3 linked regions of the Homo sapiens genome follow. The protein of the gene in region 1 purifies or fractionates together with the protein of each later gene. This does not show direct contact. Each region holds a gene or a part of one and is shown on either strand. Other genes may lie near its edges.

Evidence for each region.
Region 2: the proteins of MFSD8 (region 1) and FAM241A purify together in Homo sapiens (affinity purification with mass spectrometry; 2 studies listed by BioGRID and IntAct, with this or other methods). This does not show direct contact.
Region 3: the proteins of MFSD8 (region 1) and CYB5R1 purify together in Homo sapiens (affinity purification with mass spectrometry; 3 studies listed by BioGRID and IntAct, with this or other methods). This does not show direct contact.

What each region holds. Positions count from the first base shown.
Region 1 is NC_000004.12:127,955,167-127,962,195, reverse strand, and holds part of MFSD8 (major facilitator superfamily domain-containing protein 8), read left to right. Parts: intron 1-4,603; coding exon 4,604-4,695; intron 4,696-7,029. UniProt on the Homo sapiens protein: Outward-rectifying chloride channel involved in endolysosomal chloride homeostasis, membrane fusion and function. Conducts chloride currents up to hundreds of picoamperes.
Region 2 is NC_000004.12:112,190,429-112,195,760, reverse strand, and holds the end of FAM241A (uncharacterized protein FAM241A), read right to left. Parts: 3' UTR 505-5,332; downstream 1-504.
Region 3 is NC_000001.11:202,964,254-202,972,151, forward strand, and holds the start of CYB5R1 (NADH-cytochrome b5 reductase 1), read right to left. Parts: upstream 3,005-7,898; 5' UTR 2,953-3,004; coding exon 2,938-2,952; intron 2,646-2,937; coding exon 2,496-2,645; intron 2,348-2,495; coding exon 2,275-2,347; intron 1,741-2,274; coding exon 1,634-1,740; intron 1,248-1,633; coding exon 1,118-1,247; intron 443-1,117; coding exon 359-442; intron 1-358. UniProt on the Homo sapiens protein: NADH-cytochrome b5 reductases are involved in desaturation and elongation of fatty acids, cholesterol biosynthesis, drug metabolism, and, in erythrocyte, methemoglobin reduction.

The DNA.
Region 1 (7,029 bases):
AATGTCTCAATAGGCTCTGAGGCCCGTTGCTATACTTTTTAAGTACTTACGTCTGCTTTTTAGTTTTTCTGACAGACTGTTTTCCTCGCAGACTGTTCTGCATCATGTTTTTGAAATCTGGCAGCAACAGTTGTTTTATTGTTGTTGCTGTCACCATACTCTTTCCACCAGCTTTAATTTGGGGCTTCTTGTTTGTTATAGCTTTGATAACCCTGGATCTATGCTTAATGTAACTGTGTGTCATTACAACCTGGTAGTTCTGACTGAGAGCTAAATGTCTTTCCTACTAGTTAAGTGCATAAGCTTGAGTGCGTGGACTTCATGACATTTGGTTTTCTCAGAACTCAGAAATTCTTTTTTTTTTTTTTTTTTTTTGAGACGGAGTCTCGCTCTGTCACCCAGGCTGGAGTGCAGTGGCGCAATCTCGGCTCACTGCAAGCTCCGCCTCCCGGGTTCACGCCATTCTTCTGCCTCAGCCTCCCGAGTAGAGTAGCTGGGACTACAGGCGCCCGTCACCACGCCGGGCTAATTTTTTTTGTATTTTTAGTAGAGACGGGGTTTCACCGTGTTAGCCAGGATGGTCTCGATCTCCTGACCTCGTGATCCGCCCGCCTCGGCCTCCCAAAGTGCTGGGATTACAGGTGTGAGCCACCGTGCCCGGCCTCAGAATTCTTTTTGCTTCGTCCTGGTTTTTAGCTATTTTCCAGATAATTGCAGGATCCCTGAGTTATGTTTAAATGTGGTCTTCTGGTACATTCTGTCACCTTGTACAAAAGAGAATTTTTTTTCATACTCTTAGCTTTGATTTCATCAAAGTGATTGATGCTCATTAGGATCTGTCCAGATTTAGGTGTTCCTGCCAATAATCAATACCTCTGATTGAGGTTCTAGATTTAGCATTTTAAAAACAAAAAGGGAGTATTTTGAAAATAATAAGTATATGTCTTTAAAAACAAGTATATTCCCTAGTAAAGTGAACCTATGTACAACTAGTTGGCAGGACCTGTTCACTTTGAATATATTGCACAAACATGTCTAGGTCACCACCAACTTTTCCTCACTAACAAGGTTGATTATTATTTGCTGGTCTGGTGGAGCTGGCCTCTTGAATCCTCAGTGCTCCCCACTGACCCCCTCTATGGAGCTTTATTTAAGACAACAGGGGTTGGAAAACATTTCCTGTAAAGTCCCAGATTGTAAATATTTTAGGCTTGTTTAGGGCAAGGGGAAAAATCAAGGATATTATATAGGTGTTTAGATAACCAGAAAACAAATTCCACAAAATTTTTTAGTAATGACATTTAAAATATAATAATAAGTATAATATAGGTTTGTTAATGAAAGGGATAGAATTTGGTGGGGGAGGGGATGACATTTTCCTTAATTGCACTTCAGAGTTGGTGTTTTCTGTCATCAAACTGATAAATATTCATCTGTAAAAACCGTTTGTAGCTCACGTTACTGATCCAAGTTACAAATGATTTCAAAATTTTTTTGCAACCTTAGCCTAGTCTCTGTAAAATTTGTATTATTAGGGCATCTGTCCTTATAGGGCATATCTTTATAGAATATTTTCAGTTTATTTCTGTAACTGTTATACCACTACACTGTTCTGTCACTGAGCACACACTTCTTTCTTTTCTCTCTCTTATTTATTTATTTATTTTTTTGAGACAGACTGTCTGTTGCCCAGGCTGGAGTGCAGTGGCACAATCTCTGCTCACTGCAACCTCTGCCTCCCAGGTTCAAGTGATTCTCCTGCCTCAGCCTCCTAAGTAGCTGGGGCTACAGGCATCCACCACCACGCCTGGCTAATTTTTGTATTTTTAGTAGAGACAGGGTTTCACCATGTTGGCCAGGCTGATCTTGAACTCCTGACCTCAAGCAGTCTGCCCGGCTTTGGCCTCCCAAAGTGCTGGGATTACAGGCATGAGCCACTGCGCCTGGCCGTTGTTAAATTTTATCTAACTCATTTTGCTGATCAGTTCACTCCACTATATTGTGTATTCCTTTTAGTTTTTAAGTCACAAGTTTGACAAGCATGCTATCATTTGGAGTATTTCAGTTTGTAATAGAAATGTTGAACAGGATAAAACTGTAGTACTACAGTTTTACTGGAAGGAAAATCTCAAATGGGGAACTAATGCCAGAATGCAGCAGTGATTATAGAAAGGAATTTTAAAAGTTAAGCAAATCATCTTAGAAATGCAGCATTCCTTTTTGTACCCGGTCATACAAGAAAGAAGCCTCTGGAAATTCAATCAGATATGTGACATATTTGTCTGAATCATCAAAGCTAAGAAAATGTAATAAATATGGTCACTTGATTGAAGGACAGTTGCATTCTCCTATATTTCTACTGTCTCCAACAAGGTAGAAAGATAATTTTTTTCATTGAAGTTATACTTTTTTAATTAAAAAAGGAAAAAGTAAATCTTTTTATTTTGAAAAATGTTAAATCTATAGAAAAGATGAAAAAATCACGAACACCTGTATATCCTGTCACTAACTGTTAGCCTTTTCCACACTGCCGAAATCTTTCGGCAGGTACATACACACCCACACGCACCTCTTTTGCCAAACTACCCAAAAGTAGGTTGCAGACATTGTGATACTTTGTCCCAAGTACTTAATTGCAGCTTGCACCTCCCAAGAACAAAGAAATTCTTTTACGCAACTCCATCACTGTTACAACTAGAAATACAATATTAATTCAAGAATATCATGCAATACATAGTTAATACTCAAGTTTTTCCAATTGTTCCAAAAATATACCTTATATTCTTTAAAAAAACAAAAATAAAAAAAACCAGGAGCCATATGCAGGAGATAATCAATGTTTATGCATTTGTTGTTAGGTCTTTTTAGACTCCCCTAACCTAAAACTATCCTTTGACCTATCTCTTTCTTGTCACCATTAAAATCTTTGAAGAGTCTAGGTCAGGTTTTCTGCAGAACATCTAATATTCTGGATTTATGGACTGTTTATTTCAAAATAGATCCTGGTCAAACATTTCTGGCAAGAATATCACATGGGTTATGTTGAGAACACCCCACTACATTACATCAAAAGGTACAGGATGCCAGGACATCCCACTACTGGGAATGCCAAACATGACCACTTGTTAAGAGGGTGACTGCTATATCTTTCAATTATAAAGGTTCATGTTCCATTTTGTAATTAGTAAGCAGACACTGGGGTGACATTTGAGGGCCTTTGACTATCCTCTCCTTAACAATCTTCCAGTCAGTTGTTTTAGCATCCATTGATGATCCTTCCATTATAGCATAGAAAGTGGCCATTAAATTATTATTTTCTAATTTTATCCTTTCAATATTTAATAATTGTCATTTGTCATTAAAAGAAGAAAGATTTTGTCTGAGCTCTAAATCAGTCACTCAAACAATTTTATTATTTTTTTAGAATCAAATAATTTACTTCTTGATTCCCTAACTTAGATATATCTGGTTTTTTATTCAAATTCTAGTATATTGATTTCAAAGTATGGGCATCTAGGGTTCTGGTATTTTTCTCAGGTAAGCTACATTATTTTTATTTTTTTCTTATCTCCTTTGACTCAGAAGAGGTTTGTTTATATGGAATGACATATATAGTGTTAAACACTTTAAATATATTAGGAACTAATATGTTTGGCATATAATACATCTAAAAACATTGTTTCTCTTCTTCCTTTCCTCTTTACCACTCCCAACCATATCACGTTTGAAAAAAAAAAGTTTCTTTTTTGAAGACTAATTTGACAGTTCTAAGGCTTATTTTTAAGAAATTAATCTTGGAACATAAGAAGGCATTTTGTCTGTTCTGCATGTCTTGATTATTTGAAAAGATAATGCTCACGTTAAGGTGAACTTGTTAACTCTTTCTATTGTGTGTGTGAAAATGTAATGAGTATATAGACTCATGTGTCACCTAATGGAGGTAAGATATCTACTTAGTATACATGCCTTTGGTCCAGATCAGACGCTTATCCAAAAGATCACTTAAGTCTGGGGAGTCATGGTCTCTCTTTGGTCTGCTGATAAAATTTATCTGGTAACCCATTTAGGAGGTCCCAGGGCTGAAAATGTCTTAGGTTACGTTAAACCTTCCTGGTATCATTCCTGTTTTCTGAAGTAGGAAGCCAAAAGAGCTTCCTGCAGCAATTTAATTTGCTGTCATCAAGTAGAGCATGTTATAATGATGACAGTTATTATTTTTTAGTACTTAGTAGCTACGGGGGATCTAGTTGTAGCTAGTTTATTTGATTTATCTTGACGTAATTTATTCATTTTTACAAATTGCAACACTCTTGATTAATAAATCTGTGCATGTCAATGGTAGCAAAATAATTGCCTTGCAAAAAGTTTCCTCTTTTAAAACTATACTGTTTCCCAAATTTCTGTATACAATAATGCATATATACAATCCATGGAAATTCAAAAAAATAATGCTTATTCATAGATAAATTAGTGTAGCAGAATCAATATTGGTAAATTCTACCTCTATCACATCATTTTCATAACTAGAGAATAAAACTGTTGACACTTAAGATCCACATGTAATGAGATAAATTTATACTACTTTTTTCTTCTTTACACCTAGAGAATGGGACATTTTAGAGACTGAAGAGCATTATAAGAGCCGATGGAGATCTATTAGGATTTTATATCTTACTATGTTTCTCAGCAGTGTAGGTAAGTATTAGAAATACATAATTTTAACAATTCAGATCAGATGTCATATTTTAACTTCATTTACTTCATTTACTTTCATTGCCTCTGAAATTATCTTTATTGTGCTAAAAAATACGTGACATAAATTTACCGTGTTACCATATCTAAGTTCAATAGCCTTAAGTATATCCACATTGTTGTGCAACCAATCCCTAGAACATTTTCATCTTGCAAAAGAGAAACTCTATACCCATTAAACAACTCCCTATTTTCCCATCCCCCAAGCCCTAGCAAACTTTGTTTCTTGGAATTTGACTATTCTAGATAGCTCATATAAATGGAATTATATAGTATTTTTTTTCTTGTGATGAGATTATTTCACTCAATGTCCTCAAGTTGGTTCATGTTGCACTTGTGATAATTTCCTTTTATTTAAAGGCTGTATAGTTCATTATATGTATTCTAGGGTAGGAGAAATTTTTCCTCTATTCTCCTATGTGCTTAAGGCTTGTGAATTAAGCTGACAAAAGAAAGACTAACAGTTAAAAAAGTATACAAATTTATTTGATGTTAATATTTTTTAATGAAAAGAAACAAATAACATTAAGGAATGTACATACAAACGAAACTAGACAACTACTAAGAGTCCCTAACACTTTCATGTACTCACAAAAGTATTTCATCTTTTTTTTTTTTTTTTTTTGAGACGGAGTTTCACTCTTGTTGCCCAGGCTGGAGTGCAATGGCACGATCTCAGCTCACTGCAACCTCCACCTCCCAGATTCAAGCGATTCGCCTGCCCCAGCCTGCCAAGTATCTGGGATTACAGGCATGTGCCACCACCCCTGGCTAATTTTGTATTTTTAGTAGAGACGGGATGTCTCCATGTTGGTCAGGCTGGTCTCGAACTCCCAACCTCAGGTGATCTGCCCACCTCGGCCTCCCAAAGTGCTGCGATTACAGGCGTGAGTCACCGCCCCCAGTTAAAAATATTTCATCTTTTTTCTTTTTTTTTTTTTTTCAAGACGGAGTTTCGCACTGTCGCCCAGGCTGGAGTGCAGTGGCGCGATCTCGGCTCACTGCAAGCTCCGCCTCCCAGGTTCGCGTGATTCTCCTGCCTCAGCCTCCCGAGTAGCTGGGACTACAGACACCCGCCACCACGCTAATTGTTTTATATTTTTAGTAGAGACGGGGTTTCACTGTGTTAGCCGGGATGTCTTGATCTCCTGACCTCGTGATCTGCCAGACTCAGCCTCCCAAAGTGCTGGAATTACAGGCCTGAGCCACCGCACCTGGCCAAAAGTATTTCATCTTTACAGCCATCAGTCAATTATTTGTTCTGCTACTTCTTGAAGATGTGCAAAATTTCTTTTTAAAAAAATTTTATTATTTATTATTATTTATTCATTTTTTGAGGTGGAGTCGCCCAGGCTGGAGTGCAGTGGTGTGATCTCGGCTTACTGCAACCTCTGCCTCCTGGGTTCGAGCAATTCTTGTGCCTTAGCCTCCCGAGTAGCTGGGACTACAGGCGCACGCTATCACGCCCAGCTAATTTTTTTGTATCTTTAGTAGAGATGGGGTTTCACGGCGTTAGCCAGGATGGTCTCGATCTCGTGACCTCATGATCTGCCCGCCTCAGCCTCCCAAAGTGCTGGGATTACAGGCGTGAGCCACCCCGCCTGGCCAGTGCAAAATTTCTTAAGTTTAAATATACAGTCTTAATTATACCTGTGTCTTAATGTCCCAAGACAGATTGTAGGTAACAGAATCTCAATTGTGCCTCAAAGAATTAACAACAAAACAAAATTCAATCTATTCTCTGCATTCAGGCAGAAAGGGGGAGAGCAGAGAACCCTTCCTGCATCTGCTATTTCTCGGTTGCCTTCAGTTTGAGATAATTAATATGGCAAAACAGCAGATTTTTGGAGTAGCATACTCTGATTGCCTTCAGTATATACCACATTTTTTTTTTTTTTTTTTTTGAGACAAAGTCTCGCTCTGTCGTCCAAGCTGGAGTGCAGTGGTGTGATCTTGGCTCACTGAAACCTCCGCCTGCGGGGTTCAAGCAATTCTCTGCCTCAGCCTCCCAGGTAGCTGGGATTACAGTCACCCACCACCATGCCCGGCTAATTTTTGTATTTTTAGTAGAGATGGGGTTTCACCATCTTGGCCAGGCTGGTCTTGAACTCCTGACCTCGTGATCCACCGGCCTCAGCCTCCCAAAGTGCTAGGATTACAGCCTAGCCTGGCCTACCACATTTTGTTTAGCCATTTATCTGTCGATGGACATTTGGGTTGCTTCCACCTCTTGGCTGTTGTGAATAGTGCTGCTGTCAATATGGGTGTGCAAATATC
Region 2 (5,332 bases), about 16 Mb from region 1:
AGCCTCTTATAATACTGGGGGAAACCAATAGCAAAAAAGGTCCATGGTTTTATGATACAAGTTACTGTATTCTATGGTGTTTTGGAAAACTGGCAAAGAAATTTCCAACTAAGTCAATTAAAGATTAAATGATAAACTTTAATTGCTGAAAAGATAACTCAAATTTAATAAACATAAATATGTTTTGGATCGCTAGCAGGCTTCTGCAGAGTTTATTCGATAATTCTAACTTACACAATAGTCAAGCCAACAGAAAGAAGAAAAATACAGCTTGGAGGCAGAGGTTGGTCTTGATCTTGGTTTTCCCACTTCTCCTTTCCTGGGAAGCCATACATGTCATGTCTTGGCATTCTGTTCCAGCAATAGGGATAAGGAAAAAAGATAACCTCTGTTCACCCTCAGATGTTTGTTGTTGCTTTGGTCATTCCAAACTGGATGTGGCAGCCATTAACTGGTAAGTAGAACATGTGATAGGGAGTTGGAAGAGACACTCAGAAGGCAGAGTTGTAAAAGAGTATTATTTATTAGAAAGAATAACAAAGTATATACATGTCATTTAACACATATGTCTGGGCTACTAGGACACTGTAATAGTGGATTTCTTCTGGAGCCTAAAACACCACGCTTCGATACTTGAGAATTTCTGCTCACAAAAAAGTTTAAGAGTTTTTTGTAAAAATTAAAATGTAGGCCGGGTGCAGTGGCTCACGCCTGTAATCCCAGCACTTTGGGAGGCCGAGGCGGGCGGATCATGAGGTCAAGCGATTGAGACCATCCTGGCCAACATGGTGAAACCCCGTCTCTACTAAAAATACAAAAATACAGGCATGCCAGCATGTGCCTGTAATCCCAACCACTCCTGCTGAGACAGGAGAATTGCTTAAACCTGGGAGGCGGAGGTTGCAGTGAGTCGAGATCGTGCCACTGCCCTCCAGCCTGGCAACGGAGCGAGACTTCGCCTCAAAAAACAAAACAAAAAATTAAAAATAAAAATCCTCAATAAAATACTGGCGAACCAAATCCAGCAGCACATCAAAAAGCTTATCCACCATGTTCAAGTGGGCTTCATCCCTGGGATGCAAGGCTGGTTCAATATACGCAAATCAATCAATGTAATCCAGCATATAAACAGAACCAAAGACAAAAACCACATGATTATCTCAATAGATGCAGAAAAGGCCTTTGACAAAATTCAACAACGCTTCATGCTAAAAACTCTCAATAAATCAGGTATTGATGGGACGTATCTCAAAATAATAAGAGCTATCTATGACAAACCCACAGCCAATATCATACTGAATGGGCAAAAACTGGAAGCATTCCCTTTGAAAACTGGCACAAGACAGGGATGCCCTCTCTCACCACTCCTATTCAACATAGTGTTGGAAGTTCTGGCCAGGGCAATTAGGCAGGAGAAGGAAGTAAAAAGTATTCAATTAGGAAAAGAGGAAGTCAAATTGTCCCTGTTTGCAGATGACATGATTGTATATCTAGAAAACCCCATTGTCTCAGCCCAAAATCTCCTTAAGCTGATAAGCAACTTCAGCAAAGTCTCAGGATACAAAATCAATGTACAAAAATCACAAGCATTCTTATACACCAATAACAGACAAACAGAGAGCCAAATCATGAGTGAACTCCCATTCACAATTGCTTCAAAGAGAACAAAATACCTAGGAATCCAACTTACAAGGGACGTGAAGGACCTCTTCAAGGAGAACTACAAACCACTGCTCAATGAAATAAAAGAGGATACAAACAAATGGAAGAACATTCCATGCTCATGGATAGGAAGAATCAATATCGTGAAAATGGCCATACTGCCCAAGGTAATTTATAGATTCAATGCCATCCCCATCAAGCTACCAATGACTTTCTTCACAGAATTGGAAAAAACTACTTTAAAGTTCATATGGAACCAAAAAAGAGCCCGCATCGCCAAGTCAATCCTAAGCCAAAAGAACAAAGCTGGAGGCATCATGCTACCTGACTTCAAACTATACTACAAGGCTACAATAACCAAAACAGCATGGTACTGGTACCAAAACAGAGATATAGATCAATGGAACACAAAAGAGCCCTCAGAAATAACGCCGCATGTCTACAGCTATCTGATCTTTGACAAACCTGAGAAAAACAAGCAATGGGGAAAGGATTCCCTATTGAATAAATGGTGCTGGGAAAACTGGCTAGCCATATGTAGAAAGCTGAAACTGGATCCCTTCCTTACACCTTATACAAAAATTATTTCAAGATGGATTAAAGACTTACATGTCAGACCTAAAACCATAAAAACCCTAGAAGAAAACCTAGGCATTACCATTCAGGACATAGGCATGGGCAAGGACTTCATGTCTAAAACACCAAAAGCAATGGCAACAAAAGACAAAATTGACAAATGGGATCTAATTCAACTCAAGAGCTTCTGCACAGCAAAAGAAACTACCATCAGAGTGAACAGGCAACTTACAAAATGGCAGAAAATTTTCGCAACCTACTCATCTGACAAAGGGCTAATATCCAGAATCTACAATGAACTCAAACAAATTTACAAGAAAAAAACAAACAACCCCATCAAAAAGTGGGCAAAGGACATGAACAGACACTTCTCAAAAGAAGACATTTATGCAGCCAAAAAACACATGAAAAAATGCTCACCATCACTGACCATCAGAGAAATGCAAATCAAAACCACAATGAGATACCATCTCACACCAGTTAGAATGGCGATCATTAAAAAGTCAGGAAACAACAGGTGCTGGAGAGGATGTGGAGAAATAGGAACACTTTTACACTGTTGGTGGGACTGTAAACTAGTTCAACCATTGTGGAAGTCAGTGTGGCGATTCCTCAGGAATCTAGAACTAGAAATACCATTTGACCCAGCCATCCCATTACTGGGTATATACTCAAAGGACTATAAATCATGCTGCTATAAAGACACATGCACACGTATGTTTATTGCAGCACTATTCACAATAGCAAAGACTTGGAACCAACCCAAATGTCCAACAATGATAGACTGGATTAAGAAAATGTGGCACATATACACCATGGAATACTATGCAGCCATAAAAAAGGATGAGTTCATGTCCTTTGTAGGGACATGGATGAAATTGGAAATCATCATTCTCAGTAAACTATCGCAAGGACAAAAAACCAAACACCACATGTTCTCACTCATAGATGGGAATTGAACAATGAGAACACATGGACACAGGAAGGGGAACATCACACTCTGGGGACTGTTGTGGGGTGGGGGGAGGGGAGAGGGATAGCATTAGGAGATATACCTAATGCTAAATGACGAGTTAATGGGTGCAGCACACTAGCATGGCACATGTATACATATGTAACTAACCTGCACATTGTACACATGTACCCTAAAACTTAAAGTATAATAACAATAAAATAAAAGAAAAAAATTAAAAAATTAAAATGTAGTAAATAAAGGTCTATTAAAAAATACTGAACAAAAGTGAAGTTCTGGTAGTATCAGTGACCGTAGGTATTGTAAAATATCCTTTTTGGAAAAATAGTGAATCAACCAAACATTGAAAATACATTTTCTCCTAAAATACACAAGTGTATAGTGGAAATACTGTGTATGTATCCAAATAACAGCAGTATTCTTTTATCAGAAGTGAATAGCTTTATAAATTATAATGTATACATCAACCCATGCTCTTTGTGCACAGTAAGTATACTTTTGGAGTCAAAGAACTTCAAAGTACAACCAGCTCTAGATCTTTTTTGTTAGTGGTCTATATGAAGACCATGAGTAGATGAAGTGGGTTTACTTGATAAATATTTTGATGGCCTATTATGTCCCAGGCATTGTGTTAGGCACTAGCAATGCAATTATAGAATGACAGACATGTTCTCTTCCCTTGTGAAGCCTATTGATTAATTTAATAATTAATCAATTATTAAAGCAGCAGCTGACAAATAAGCTATTGCAATATAGCATGAGAAGTGCTGACCTGGAAAGCACAGGGTTGCACTTGAGAAACCAAGCCATAATGAAGAACCAAAACTGGATTTAAAGGAGTCAGAGAAGTTTCCCTGGAGGACATGATGTCTCACTTGAGGTCTTAAGGCTGTGTAGATATTGGTCAGTCTGGTAGGGAGCAGTTAAAGAAGTAAAGCATGTACAAAGTTCTGGAAGTAAGAAAGCATGTCTCTTTAAAGGAACTGGGGAAAAGTTCAGTATAGTTGAATCCTGGAAATGGAGAGTGGCAGTATAGAGAGATGAGGTACGCAAGAACCAGTACATGAAGAGCCTTGTAAAACATATTAAGGCATAAGGACTTTATCATAACGAAAACAGAAAGCCATTGAAAAGATTTAGGTCAAGGATATCAGAATCATGTTAGAATAATTCTTTAGAAAGATCTGTAACTACAAAGTGGAAAATGAAGGTAGGGAGGCTAATCAGGATTCTCAGCATGCCAGGTGAGATGATGGCAGAATGGACTCAGTGATGCTAGGAATGAATAGAAGTAGAAAGATTATATTTTTAGAAGTAAAATAGATTTGGTACTTGGTTACATGTAGGTAGTGTAGGAAACACAGAGTCAAGGATGTCATCTACAACTCCTGCTTGAGCAGTTAGGGAAAGGATTGTGTCATTTGCTGAGATGGGAAACAGGAATTAAAGATTTGGGAGAAGGATGCTGCGCTCGTTTGGACACGCTGAGTCTTGGGTACTATGGGATAACCAAATGCAAATAAATATTGGGCAAGCAATTGAATGTAGGAGTCTTAAATTCTGTACAGTGCTCTGATCTAGAGATGCAAATTGGGGAGCTGTTAGGATGCAAATGGTAACTCTGCAGCCACGGGAGTGGTGACATTGCCGAGCTGCTGTGTGGAGTGATGTGAGAGCAGGCTGTTGGACTGAACTCCAACGCATACCAAAAATTAAATGTTGGGCAGAGAGACAAGAGTTGCAAATGACCTCTAATCCACCAATACTCCTGAAGTCATAGTTTGTAAATAAGTTTATATTCTTCTCGGCCAACTCTATTACCAGGCATGAAAGTCTTTTTTTTTTTTTTTTGAGATGGAGTTTCGCTCTTGTTGCCCAGATTGAGTGCAAGGGCATAATCTTGGCTCACTGCAAACTTTGGCTTCCGGGTTCAAGCGACTCTCCTGCCTCAGCCTCCTGAGTAGCTGAGATTACAGGCATGCACCACCACGCCTAGCTAATTTTGTATTTTTTTTTTTTTTTTTTTAGTAGAGACGGGGTTTCTCCATGTTGGTCAGGCTAGTCTCGAACTCCCGACCTCAGGTGATCCGCCCGCTTCGGCCTCCCAAAGTGCTGTCCCAG
Region 3 (7,898 bases), on another chromosome or scaffold:
ATAGTAGTGTATTAGACTACACAGTGTCTAATGCACAGTAGTGTCCAATGCTAATTTTCTTTCTTCCTAGCTAGTCATTCCTAGCTGCTTCTCTCTTCTCTCACCTAAAACTATTAGATCCATTCAAAATGAGGAAAGCTCATTTAATTTGTTTCTCTAATTCCATCAGTTAAAATTTTTTTTGGTTTCTACCTGCTTATGATTTTGTTTTTCAGATACTAGGGAGTTCTAAGCATTGCTGGAAATCCCCTGATGAACAACAGCTTGGCTATGGTTACCAGTCTTCAGAGGGTCACCTAGGAATTTGCATGGCAACAGTCAACAATGGTGGGAGAGAAAGGCCCTCAGTGTAATGCACCTGTCCCGCCGGCAATCATTCCCAGTTTCTTCGCCACTCGGGGTTCTGGTGGAGATTTCTTGTTGGGCTGAATGTTAAAATGCCCTGAGAGGTCAGGTGAAGAGAGCAGTGGAAGAATAAAGTCAATACAGCGAACTTAGAAAACAAATGCAGAGTTGAAAATATGCCTGAGGCCAGTTGAGCAGCTGCTATGACATCTGATCCTGGAGCTTGGGTGGAAGCTTGAGTTGAGCCAGCCCTGACAATAATATAGTTGAGGGACAATGGGGCCAGGGCTATCTGTGAGTCAGTTCAGCGCCACACAATGTATCAGCTGCTTCTGGCAAAGTGTCACTCCCTGGTGAAGGAGACAGGCACAGAGCCAGGTGTGAATCTATTTTCCCAAGTGGCACACAGCAGCTCCAGGGACTTGCTAATGCACCCAGCTGTTCCCATGGGAAGGGCTGAAAGCTATCTCTGGCTCACTCCACAGCTCACCCAGGGGGGCAAATTTTTGAAGGTGGGGAAGAGGGGCACATGTTTGCTTTAGTAATCTCCACAGCTGCCATGGCTAGGGAATTCAAGTGGAGGAGGAACTGCTTCCTGTGGCAAATGGGGCTGAGAAACATGCCTTTCTATTGTATCAGCGCTATGTTTAGAAGGAAGGGCGGCCCTGGCCCTTACGTGCATACACATGTGTACACACAGCCATACTGTGCCAAGAGGACTATGGGAACTGATAAAGTGGGAGACAGGCTCAAGGAGAAGACAGGTCATTACCTTTTCCAGTGTAAGTGAGCAACCCGCTTGGCCCCCGAAACTCCACCACATCCCCAACCTTCAGGCTATCCAGGTACTGAGACATCTTCCCTCCCTCAGGAAATTTGGGGTGCACACCCTTCAGGTAGACCTTACAAGACAGAGAGAAAAATACCTTATTTGGAATGTCACTGGTTTCTGAGCCCCATGTTGACTAAACCTCCCTGAGGCTGGGGCAGGGATCAGATATGTGCTATCTTTTCCCCGTCTACATACTTTCTTTCTTTCTTTTTTTTTTTTGAGTCAGAGTTTTGCTCTTGCTGCCCAGGCTTGAGTGCAGTGGCGCAATCTTGGCTCACTGCAACCTCCGCCTCCTGGGTTCAAGTGAGTCTCCTGCCTCAGTCTCCTGAGTAGCTCATACTTTCTTCACATCCACAGAGTACATACCATTTCCTGCTGTCAGGCAAATCTTAGAAATTTCTACAAATCCCAGAAAGAATGGGTAAGCAGCCCCTGGGTCCCTTCCTAGCCCCTTACCTTGATGACAAGATCCACATAGCCTTGATCCTCATCACTGGTGACAGGAGTGTATGGCCTGATGACCAGGCTGCCATCAATTCGGGTGGAGAGGTAGATATGTTTGCCTGGGGACCGTGCAGAGAGCTACATAAGGGTTGTCTGTGATGTGCTGCATCCCTCAAAATACTCAAAGAGATTTGAGAGAACAAGATGTCTTGCTTCCTGCTGTGGTCCCAAGGAGCTACAAGGCAGGGAAGATTTGCCCCATTGAGCCCTCAGTTGGATCTCTTATAAGCGCCCAGTTGAGGAAACACTTATTTCCAGCGTTTCCTGCCAGTTACTGCCAGGACCTTGACAGATGAGCCAAAAGGGTCTGGGCAATGGGAAAAAGTTAGTAGTGCTTGCTCAGAGGGAGTAATTAGCAAATCCTGCAGGGAAGAGGCAAGACTGTTGAGTGTTAAAGCTGGATGGGGGTCATGGAAGCCACACTCTAGAGGGGCCCAGTGGCACCTCACAGCTTGGAGGATGCAGAGCCAAGTGGGGGAAGGGGAATGGTGTGTGGAGCAAACCGGTTGAAGCAGCGTGTTTCATGAGATCCCAGGAGGGGAGTCACCTTCTGAGGATACCAGGGAAAGGAGCCCATTCCACACTTTCCTTACCCACAGGCAGCCCCAGAGTGTGGTGGGCGGTGGGCAGGGCAAAGCGGAACCTCTTGGTGTTGTGGCTCACAGTCTGGAGGGTGGAGGACACAAGTGTTTCACCAAGCGCGCCTGGCGCTGCCACGTCCCTTGGACATCCCAACCACCGTGGGTGCTGTACCCTCCATGCCAGGAGCACTCTGGTCCCCTCCTTCACCCTGGCCCTTTCTTCCCCAACTTACCGTCTTGTCTAGCAGTCGTAGCAGGTACTTTTCATTGGGGTCCAGGAGAGTGACCTGAGGCCGGCGGGACCTCCGAACCAAGTAGGAGCCCACAGCCAGGCCGAGCAGAGTGACCAGCCCCACCCCCAGGGAGGCCAGCAGGACGGGGCTCTGTGGGTAGAGGAGGCAGCGTGACCGCCAGGCTGGGTAAGAGCCCGGGGCTTGGGTGGTGACCGTCCCAGGGGTGGCGATCCCGAGCTCCAGCGCGGAGGCATGCCAAGGGCAGAGGGGTAACCTGGCGGAGTCCCGAGCCCGGATGTGCGGGATCGGGACCCCAGCATCCACGGTGGGCCCAGAGCCCTGCGGGGCGGGGTCGGCAGCGACAGCCCCTGGTCCGGAGCTGAGTGGCCAGAACCAGATGGGGAGGGGTCCCCCAGTGGAGGATACTGAATGAGGGTCTTACCGTCTGGATCCCCATGACGGAGCGCCTTTTCCTCCACCACCTGACAAGCCGACAGATCCCACAATGCGCCGCGGGGCGGGTCGGAGGGCGGGGCAGGCCGGGGGCGGGGCCGGGCAGGAGGCAGGACCTCGCGGCTGGGGGGGCAGGAGGCGGGGCCTGGCGGGGGGGGGGGGGGGTGTCTGTCGGGGGCGGGGCCTAGCAGGAGGTGGCGGCGGCGGGGCCTTTTGGGGGCGGGGTCCGGCAGAGGCGGGGCTGGGCCCCTCTGCGCGCCACCCTTTCCCTCCGCTACTCGGTGGCTCAGGGTCTCCGGTGCTTATTCAATACTTTTTTTTTTTTTTTTGAGTCGGAGCCTCGCTCTGTCGCCCAGGCTGGAGTGCAGTGGCGCGATCTCGGTTACTGCAACCTCCGCCTCCCAGTTTCAAGTGGTTCTCCTGGCTCCGCCTCCCGAGTATCTGGGACTACTGGCGTGCGCCACCACGCCCGGCTAATTTTTTTTTTGTATTTTTAGTACAGACTGGGTTTCACCGTGTTGGTCAGGGTGGTCTCGAGCTCCAGGGCTCAAATAATCTACCCGCTTCGGCCTCCCAACGTGTTGGGATTACAGGCGTGAGCCATCGCGCCCGGCCCCAAGATCTTTTAAGACCGCAGCTCCAGCCTCTCCTCCCAGCGAGGTGGTCCCTGCCACTTCGACCCGCTTATATCCGAACTGGATGGGAGTTCTGCCTAAGGTAGAACCACGCTAAATTGGGGGATTGGAAATCTCTTGAGTCTGCGGGTGCTGAGCGGAGAGTGTAACGATGAACCAGAGACAGGCTCAAAGTAGAGCAGAAGGGCCTGAAGTTAATCATTGTGCAGTCACCTTAGTTTTTCAACCGGCTGAATTGCAGCAAGAGAATGGAACAGCCCAGAGGAGTCTCTTACAGGAGTGAACAGTGGCATGGCAACTTCATTTCCTTTTGACAAAAGACTGATTTTGTTTACAGCGCCAAGCCGTCAGCCTATCAGGATGATTCAGGAGCTTCCTTTGGTTTCAAAGACCAAGCTTCACATCCTGATTTGGGTTCTTGTGCCCTTAGGGTCAAAGAAGTGGGCTTTGGAGGCAGAGTGTACAGAATAAGAATCTTGCCTCTAGCACTTATTGGCTCTGTGACCTTAGATAGCTTACTCAACCTGAGTTTCTTCATCTACAGATGGATATAAGATGGATATCTACAGATGGATATATATTATTATCTACAGATAGATTGTATCTAGTTCATAGCTTTGGTGTGAGGCTTCAGTGAGATATGTTAACGTGCTTAGTGTAGTGCCTGTCATAAAGCAAAATATTCAACAGTTGGCAGCTACTATTATAACTTAAAAGACAGCACAGAGGGTCAGCTATGGTTTTAGGAATGAGCTCTGCCTGGGGCACAAGCATGGGACAGGAGGAGGCAGGAAAAAACATCAGGAGCCGCTGGAGCTACAGATTTCCCAAGATGACCATTCTTTCTCATACATGAGTTTCTCAACTAGAATGACATTTGCTCTTTGATATACCGTGATGGATGAGATCTCTGCAGATGTCAGTGTCAACATCTTAAACTAATACCATCAGGGCAGCAGGGACATTAGAGCCCCCAGTTTTCAGTTGTATTTGGTGAACTCTGTGAATGATCCAAGAGATACTTAGTTTTCCTTTTCCTCTCCACTGGCTGAAAATGTTCCTAAGACCCCAGTACATGTTCCTCTGAATTTTTTAAGCAGCCTGCACACTGACTTGAGGGAAGTGAGTGCACCAGATCATGGTGACATGCCAATCCATGCAGAGAGGGTTGAAAAGGGGAAGGAAGGGACCCTTCCTCTTTTCTGTTCCGAGAGAATGAGGCGATTATGTTCCGGTGCTTCTGACATCCCCACTGCTGGCTTGGTTAAGAAGCCACACTACTGATCCTTGCCACTGCTCCACTCTGGCTAAAGAGGTTCTAGGCCTTCCTCCCTCTAGTGGATAGATGTGGCAAGAGAGGGGGAAGTATGGAACGAAAGGAGAGCATAACTACAACTCGGGCTTCTCTCAGTGATTGCATTTTCTGAACCCCAAAGTGGCACATTCTAACAAGTGTGAGTGTATCACTGGGAACCACAGGACAGAATGGTTGGGTGTGGGCTTATCCTGGAAACTAAGTGTTGGACTCAGTAATTGTGGGAAGGCTCTTTTGCTCCTGAAAATGAATGCTGCAGGAGTGGTGGGAAGGGGCTGATGGCCTGGCAGGTCTTCCTGTCTCAGATTCTGTGGTGAATTGAACTCCACTCCACCACGACTCATGGTAATCTTACATTACTCCTAGTTTGGAGGAAAAGATAGGCATTTCTGAATTTTTATTTAACCCAATCTTTTAAGTTTAGGATTTCCTCCTGGGTATACAATAAAGAATAGAACAGGCTGGGTTCACGCCTGTAATCCCATCACTTTGGGAGGCTGGATGGATCACTTGAGCCCAGGAGTTTGAGACCAGCCTGGGCAACATGGCAAAATCCTGTCTTTACAAAAATACAAAAATTAGCCAAGTGCGATGGCGCTGGCCTGTAGTCCTAGATACTAAGGAGGCTGAGGTGGGGGTATTGCTTGAGCCTGGGAGATCAACGCTGCAGTGAGCCATGATTGCGCCACTGCACTCCAGCCTGGGCAATAGAGCAAGACCCTGTTTAAAAAAATATATATATATAATGTAGTGTGAGGGGGAAGTAGAATTTCAAACCTGTGTTTTATAATTCTGAATTAGGATGTAAAACTCAGTGGCCCTTTTTAGATAAGATATCCAGAAAGAAGCTTGGAGGAAGACTTGCTCATACTGAGGAGATGGCATGGAGGAATCAGACCAGGAGATGTAATAATGACAAAAAAATTAACATTTATTGAGCATGTGCAATATAGCAAGAACTAGGTAAATTGCTTTTCACGTATTCTGACAACATCCATTTAATCCTGACAACAACTGTGAGATAGATATTATCATTAGTAGTCTCATTTTATGGAGTGGGGGGAAACTGAAGTTTAGGACAAGTAAGTCACTTGCCCAAGATCACCTACTAAATGGCAAACTCAGACTGCATACCAGGCAGCTTGATGTTGAAAACTAACAACCTCACACCCTTTTTGAACTTTTCTTTTTTTTTTGAGACGGAGTCTTGCTCTGTCACCCAGGCTGGAGTGCAGTGGCGCAATCTCGACTCACTGCAACCTCTGCCTCCCAGGTTCAAGTGATTCTTCTGCCTCAGCCTCCTGAGTAGCTGGGATTACAGGCATGCGCCACCATCCCCGGCTAATTTTTGTACTTTTAGTAGAGACGAGGTTTCACCATGTTGGCCAGGCTGGTCTCAAACTCCTAACTTCGTGATCCGCCTGCCTCAGCCTCCCAAAGTGCTGGGATTACAGGCGTAAGCCACCGTGCCTGGCTGAACTTTTTAGTATGGAAACTATCAAACATATACAAAAGTAGACAGAACAGTATAATAAAGCCCGACGTACCCATCACCCTCTTCAACAATTATTAAATCATGGTCACCTTTCTTTCATTTCTTCCCCAGTCCGTTCCTTCCTCCAGTATTATTTTTAAGCAAATCCCATATTTTTTATAACTTTGTCCTTAAATATTTTAGTGTGTATCTTTAAAAGCTAAGGACTTAAAAATAACCATAATACCATTATCACATGTAAAAATAATTAACAACAATTACTTAGTTTCATCAGATAGCTAGTCAGTGTTCAAAGTTCCACCTGTCTCTTTTTTTTTTTTTTTTTTTTGAGATGGAGTCTCACTCTGTCGCCTAGGCTGGAGTGCAGTGGCATGATCTTGGCTCACTACCAGCTCCACCTCCCAGGTTCACGCCATTCTCCTGCCTCAGCCTCCCGAGTAGCTGGGACTACAGGCGCCCGCCACCACGCCTGGCTAATTTTTTGTATTTTTAGTAGAGACGGGGTTTCACTGTGTTAGCCAGGATAGTCTCAATCTCCTGACCTTGTGATCCATCCTCCTCGGCCTCCCAAAGTGCTGGGATTACAGGGATGAGCCGCCGTGCCCGGCCTTTTTTTTTTTTTTTTTTTTTTGAGATGGAGTCTCACTCTGTCACCCAGGCTGGAGTGCAGTGGCACGATCTCGGCTCACTGCAACCTCTGCCTCCCGGGTTCAAGAGATTCTCCTGCCTCAGCCTCCTGAGTAGCTGGGATTATAGGCGACTTCCACAGCGCCCGCCATGGCGCCTGGCTAATTTTTGTATTTTTAGTAGAGAAGGGGTTTCACCATCTTGGCCAGACTGTTCTTGAACTCCTGACATTGTGATCCACCCGGCTCGGCCTCCCAAAGTGCTGGAATTACAGGCATGAGCCACTGCGCCTGGCCCCAGCTGTCTCATTTTAAATTTGTAATTGTCATACATTAAAATAGACTCTTGGGCATACAGTTCTGTGAATTCTAGAATATGTATAGATTTGTGGCACCACTATAATCAGGAAATAGACCAGTTTGATCACCCTGCAAATCTCCCATATGCTATCCCTTTATGGCCACATCCTCCCCTTACCTTTAACTCCTGGTTATCACTGATGTGTTCCCTGTCAATACACTTTTGCCTCTTTATGAATGTCACATAAATAAAGTCTATACAATATGTAAGCTTTTGAGTGGATTTCTTTCACTCAGCATAGTTTGAGATTCATCCAAGTTATCATGTGTATTTACAGTCCATTCTTTTCATTGCTAGTAGTATTCTGTTGTATGGCTGTATCATAATTTGTTTATCCATTCATCAGCTGAAGGACATTTGAGTTATTTCCAATTTTTGGTGATGATTGAAATTGCTTTAAACATTCATGTGCAGATTTCCATGTGAACCTAGTTTTTATTTCTCTGAAATATCCACAAGTGTGATTTCCGGATCACATGGAAGGTGTATATTTAACTTTATATAAAAAGCTGCCAAAC